Regions from separate parts of the Homo sapiens genome. Here region 2 is linked to region 1. The links come from fine-mapping of genetic effects on gene expression. A gene starts in region 1. The other region holds a variant in brackets. All regions are shown on one strand. Distances are from middle to middle. Region 1 holds the start of RAB37 (RAB37, member RAS oncogene family). Region 2 overlaps NHERF1 (NHERF family PDZ scaffold protein 1).

Region 1 (2,894 bases):
AGTGGCCCAGGGTGGGAACTGTCTGCCTGTGGGCCACATCACCCCTAGTCTGGTCCAAGGAGCTCCTGCCAGGCTTTCTCAGAGGGTCCTGGACTCACTCCCCTGGGGCAGGCCCGGGGAGGCTGGGGACCAACTCTCCGGCCAATGCCGCTTGGCCAGGGAACAGATGAAGGGGTGGGGGATAGGAGCTTTCTGGAGCCTGCACTCCTCCCTGGCTCCTGGGTCCCAGCCCTGGAGCAGGAAGGAGGGAGGGAGGGCCAGTCTTTGTGTACTTTACAGATCACAGCTGCCTTGAGCAAACGATGCCAGCTACCCACCCAGCTCGGTGATTCCACCAAACACAAACAGCTGCCTAGCCTGGCCACCTCCTAGGCAAACAACCCAGCTGGTTTGCAGGGCAACAAGGTCAGGCAGTCCCCCTCAGCCTGGGGCCTGGCCAACAGCAGCTCCTCCTCTCCGAGGGTGCAGGGGCCCATTTCCTGCCACAAGCCCACACAGGACGCCTATCTCAACGGCTCTGGGCGGATGACTTGCAGGGTGGCTTCCCCCGAAACACTGGGGTGGAGGCTGAGGCTCCCAGCAAGGGTGAGCCCTGGTGTCGGGGAGGAAACCGAGGCCCAGAGAGAGGCAGGTCTCCTTCAAGGCCATGCAGCGGAATCCAGGACAGCCCTCACTCCATCCCCAACCCTGCAGAGGAAGAGTGGAAGCTCTAGGCTCCCTCAGCAGTTCTTTCAGTTTCTGGTACCCGCTCACTCCAAGGACACAGATGGAAGGCGACAGACCAGTCCACTGCTGTCCCTACCTGTTTCCATACAGGACACCCCTGTAGAGGGAGCAAGCCCCAGAGAGCAGCCCTGGAGCTCTCTCAAGTGCGGGATGCGAAAGACCAACCACTGAAATCTTTCTCAGGTTCGAAAAATTCCCAAGTGACCTGCAGGCCGGCTGGCAACATCCTTCTGGGAGGAGCGGCTTCCGACTGCAGGGAGGAAGGTGGGAGGCAGTGCCTCCAGCGGGTGGAATGGGAGGGGAGCAGCTGGGGGACATCAGGCCTTAAACCTGGATGTCAGATCTCAACTAAGAGCTTAGCTCGGAAAATGGCATTAACGCCAGTTCCTCTGCCAGCAGGGGACGTCCTCTCCGAGTCTCCGTTCGGTCCCCATCTCCCAGCCCTTCCCAGCCTGAGCCCCGAGAGTTGCGCGCTTAACCCTCACCAAGAAGCATGGGCTCCCGGGGGCTCATATTTGCCAGAGTGTGGCAGAAGAGAACTGAGTTGGGGCCGGCGGGGGGATCACTCAGTTTTTGCGATCTTCCGCGACCCGCCCCCACCAAGCCAGCAGAGACACCTAGAGCTTGGGACGGCCCCAGAGGCTGTGTCCTGACCCTCTCTCCCTCCCTCCTCTGGGAGACGCAGCTGCCTGGGGGAAGGGCTGAGTCCAACCCAGACGCAGCCAGGAAGGGGCTAGCGCCGAGGAGGGCGGGGGTCTCACGGAAGAGGCCCACCCACCTTGCCCGTGAGGTCGTAGCTCGGACTGCAGGGCGGGGAGCGCTCGGGGGCCTCGCCATCCCGGGTGGCAACGGCGCCTGGCGTGCCCGTCATGTCCCTGGACGAGAGGTGAGCAGTGCCGGCCCGCAGGCGAAGGAGAGCGCAGGAACGGCCCCACCCCCGCCCCGCCCACTCCTCCCCTCCCTCGACCGGGACCCCTCAGGCTCCTCCCTCCGTCCCGTCGCCCCCTCGACGACACCGGCTCGGACCTTGCTGTTCCCTGAGGGCACGCAGAGCCGCAGGGTCTGCGTGAAGGGGCGGGCAGCCTCCCTGAGCAACACCGGCTCGGCTCCGTGCGCTTCGGACATGAGCCACATCCAGCCCCGGGACCGGTCCCCTGTGGTCGCTTGCTTGCCCCTGGGGGAGCGGGCCGCGGGGACCCCGTCTGCTGCGGAAGAGTTCCCGTAGTCGCTGCGCACCGCGACAGCAGGCGGCGCCCGAGCCCCGGGCCGTGGGCTGTCCCCAGGTGGCGAGGCGGGGAGCTGGGGACCCCTGGGCTGCGCCTCCGCCGATGGCCCCGAGACACTTCCTCATCTGTTAAGTCACCCGGCCCGAGCTCATCTGAATATAGTTTTGTTTACCAACCCGTACTCGCCTTGCAGCACATGTACGCTGCGGTGTTTTGGGGCCTCTGCCTGGTGCGGGGACTTTGACCCTTTAGTATGGATCACCTCTCATTTCCCCCGGCCTGTTGGTTGTGCCCAGAATGTCCCACCAGGGGAGAGCTTTCGCAAGAGGGCTGCGCAGCACACATCTCCCAGTGGACCGCTCCTGAAGGCGGGGCCGGCCTTATTAACCCATGACACTCACCCTGGCCCCGAGGAGGAGCCAAATAAATTCATGAAGTCGTAGATCATTTTGAGCAGAGCTGCCAGGATATCCCAGGCACCCGGCAGCTCCTGGTGACAGAGAGTGGGGAGTGCAGCTGGGGTTGCCGGTAGCAGAGCTCAGGGGCTCTGTGGCCTGGGCCGACCTTTCAATTACCCCCATCTCCACATTCTATAAGCAGCTTCAAGTTACCAAGGAACAGGGCGGGTGCATTACAGCGGGACGGTTTGAGGGATGTGTAGGGAGGGGAGAGCTGGAGAGGGGTACCTGCACTTTTTTTTTTTTTCAGACAGAGTCTCACTCTGTCGCCCAGCCTGGAGTGCAGTGGTGCGATCTCGCCTCACTGCAACCTTTGCTTCCCGGGTTCAAGCTATACTCCCGCCTCAGTCTCCCGGAGTAGCTGGGATTACAGGTGCGCGACATCAGGCCCGGCTATTTTTTCTTTTTGTATTTTTAGTAGAGACGGGGTTTTGCCATGTTGGCCAAGCTGGTCTCAAATTCCTGACCTCAGGCGGTCCGCCCA
Region 2 (2,894 bases), 30 kb before region 1:
CAGCTGTAAAGAGAAGTGGGGGCAGGAAGTTGGGAGTCAGTCCCTCATTAGGCTCCCTGGTCCTCAGCCTTGGTGAGGTGGCTCCGTTGGGGCCGTGCCCAGGGAAGCCAGGTCACAAGAACAGAATGCGGCTCAGCATGTGACCTCAAAGGCAGGCTGGTGTGCCAGGAACAAGTGGGGCCTGGGAATCGGCTTCCTGTAACCCAGTTGCCACCCCCCGCATGGCTGGCCTACCTCCTCGCTGGTGTCACTGGAGGCGGATCTCACCAGGGCTGGCCTGGGGCTCTCCAAGGCTGCCTCTGCCAGGGCTTCACGACTGTTCTCCTGGCAGAGAGGAGAGGGTTGTGGGTTGTCAGAGGATGGGGTGAGGGGGTCCTGAGGAGGGAGGGAGCTCCTGGGGAAGTAGGGGCCTCAGACTGAGAAGAGGTAGCACTGATGCCCTGGCCACCCACCCCTGGTTCCCACCTCCTGAGCCTGCTGGGGCTCCTTTTTACATTCCTTTGGGGATCAGAGGGCAGGCTGGTTCTACTGCTCAGGCTGGAGGGATGGGATGGGAACAGACCATCATGGGATTAGCTGAACCGCTCCCTCTCCCTGGGCCACTCCAATGTGGCTTTTAGGTACTGGCTTGCCTTTTGGGCCAGTGACCAGGGAGGGGCTTCTTGGAATGTGGGGACACATGGGGGCATGGGGAGCCCATGTGGTGCTCCCTGAATCTCATGTGGTCCACCTGACTGTTTGCCAGGATTTGACCCCAGGAATCCTGAAACCCTAACCCTGAAGCAGCAAAGGAGGGCCTTGAAAGAAGAAGGTGGATGGAAAGTTCTAGATCCAAAGATGAGGTGAAAGAAGGTTGAGGGCTGGGTCCAAGGGCCCTCCCCCTTGCCAAGTACCCTGGCAGGAGCTCCTAGGGAAGGGGAACCTTTAAGCAGACCCTGCAGAGTTCCTGCTCTGTGGCCTGACTGAGTCGGCCTGTCCCAGAGCGAAGGCTTTGGCTGGGGCGTCAGCTTGGCACCCAGCCCCTTCCTGGGTTCCTCCATGGCTTCAGCTGGCGCCCAGCCCCACCATCTCTTCCCCGGGCCTCACCCCCTTTCCCTTCTGCCCAGGGAAGGGGGGAGGAGGGGCTTTGTTCTTCCAACCCAGACTAGAAGTAGCAGGGGCCCGGCTGCCCGTGGCCAGACACTGAAGCTCTGTTCTTGGGGGGAAGAATGGCCCCTTCTGTATGGTGGGGAGTTGGAGGCGGGGGCTTGTCACCCAGGATGGCGGGCTGCAGAGGGGCCCAGCCAGCCCGCTCCCTCCTGACAGCTTTGGCCCCAGGCAGAGGCCAAGAGGGTTCTGGCAGTTCTATAGCTTGGAGCTGAAGAAGGAGCTGGAACTGGGGACCCTGGGGTTTTGGCCTTAGTCAGATGGCTATCCTACCAACCACAGCACCTTCTGATCTGTCTCATGCACCCCAAGGATTGAAATCCAAAGAGACAGGGGACCCGCCCTTACCTTCTGTATCTCCCCATTGGTGAAGGGCACAGGCAGGGGACCTAGGCAAAGGACAGAGCAGAGGTGAGTCCAGAACGGGGATGGAATAGAGCGTGGAGAGGAGGTAGGAGTTGGGTTTGGGCAGATTATTAGATCTTGTTCCCTGGGTCAACATCTCAAACTTTTTTGACTACCACCCACCATGAATACATTTGCCTTATTTATTTAAAAAAAA[T/A]TTTTTTTTTATAGAGATGGGGCCTTGCCATGTCATGCAGGATGGTCTCAAACTCCTAGCCCCAAGCAATCCTTCCACCTTGGCCTCCCAAAGTGTTGGGATTACAGGTGTGAGCAAATGTCTGGCCTACGTTTGCCATTTTGATGACTCAGCACACACAAAGATTTTGTGTGATAAAAGTTTCACAAAGCAACACCCTTACTACAGTGTTCTTTGATATTTTTAATTTCATTTCATTAAAAAAAACAAAAAAATGTCTGGGCCAGGCATAGTGGCTCACACCAGTAATCCCAGCACTTTGGGAGGCCGAGGCACCTGGATCACTTGAGGTTAGGAGTTTGAGACCAGCCTGGCCAACATGGTGAAACCCCGTCTCTACTAAAAAAGACAAAAAGAAAATTAGCTGGGCATGGTGGCACACGCCTGTAATCCTAGCTACTTGGGAGGCTGAGGTGGGAAAATTGTTTGAACCCAGAAGGTGGAGGTTGCAGTGAGCCGAGATCACGCCACTACACTCCAGCCTGGGCAACACAGCAAGACTCTGGCAAAACAAAACAAAACAAAACAAAACAAAAAAAACAAACCAAAAAACCTGCTGGTCTCTATCTACTAAATTGATCTTATGAGGCACTGATGGGTCACAAGGTGTTTAAAAAATGTATTGTCTCAGATGGGGATGAAATTCGAGGATGGCTGCCTAATTCCTACCTGGGAATTCCTACCTGGGAACTCCTACGTGGGAAGCTTGTTAAAGTACAGATTCCTGGACCTTGGCAGCACAGATTCTGGTTTAGTGGGCAGGCCTAAGAATCAACATTTTCCAAACGCTTCCCAGGTGATGATGATGACACCAAAATTGGAACCACACCCCAGACTATAGTTAGTACCTGCCTCAACTGAAAGAGAAAATAGTCTGGGCTCGGTGGCTCATGACTGGGACCCCAGCACTTTGGGAGACTGTGGCAGGCGGATCACCTGAGGTCAGGAGTTCAAGACCAGCCTGGCCAACATGGCGAAACCCTATCCCTACTAAAAATACAAAAATTAGCCGGGCATGGTGGCAGGCGCCTGTAATCCCAGCTACTCAGGAGGCTGAGGCAGGAGAATTGCTTGAACCCAGGAGGTGGAGGTTGCAGTGAGCCAAGATTGTGCCATTGCACTCTAGCCTGGGTGACAGAGACTGTGT

Evidence for each region. PIP is the estimated chance that this variant, and not a neighbour inherited with it, causes the effect. A credible set is the group of variants that fine-mapping cannot tell apart.
Region 2: its variant is the best candidate, but not a certain one, in a credible set for the expression of RAB37 in whole blood (TOPMed, PIP 0.57).

The regions. Positions count from the first base shown.
Region 1 is chr17:74,735,976-74,738,869 of GRCh38, reverse strand. It overlaps RAB37 (RAB37, member RAS oncogene family), which reads right to left and starts at 1,614. Exons shown (of 9, transcript NM_001006638.3): 1 at 1,505-1,614. The coding sequence starts at 1,597. It overlaps LOC124904057 (a long non-coding RNA gene), which reads left to right and starts at 1,531. Exons shown (of 3, transcript XR_007065905.1): 1 at 1,531-1,612. RefSeq lists enhancers at 1-534, 899-988, 1,259-1,982, 2,369-2,428 and silencers at 1,459-1,658, 1,859-1,908, 1,959-2,128.
Region 2 is chr17:74,765,577-74,768,470 of GRCh38, reverse strand. NHERF1 (NHERF family PDZ scaffold protein 1) reads right to left here. Exons shown (of 6, transcript NM_004252.5): 4 at 1,495-1,535; 5 at 235-324; 6 at 1-3. Among named protein-coding and RNA genes, the nearest start is that of NAT9, 9.3 kb to the left of the region's middle. The variant T/A (reference allele first, on the strand shown) is at 1,709.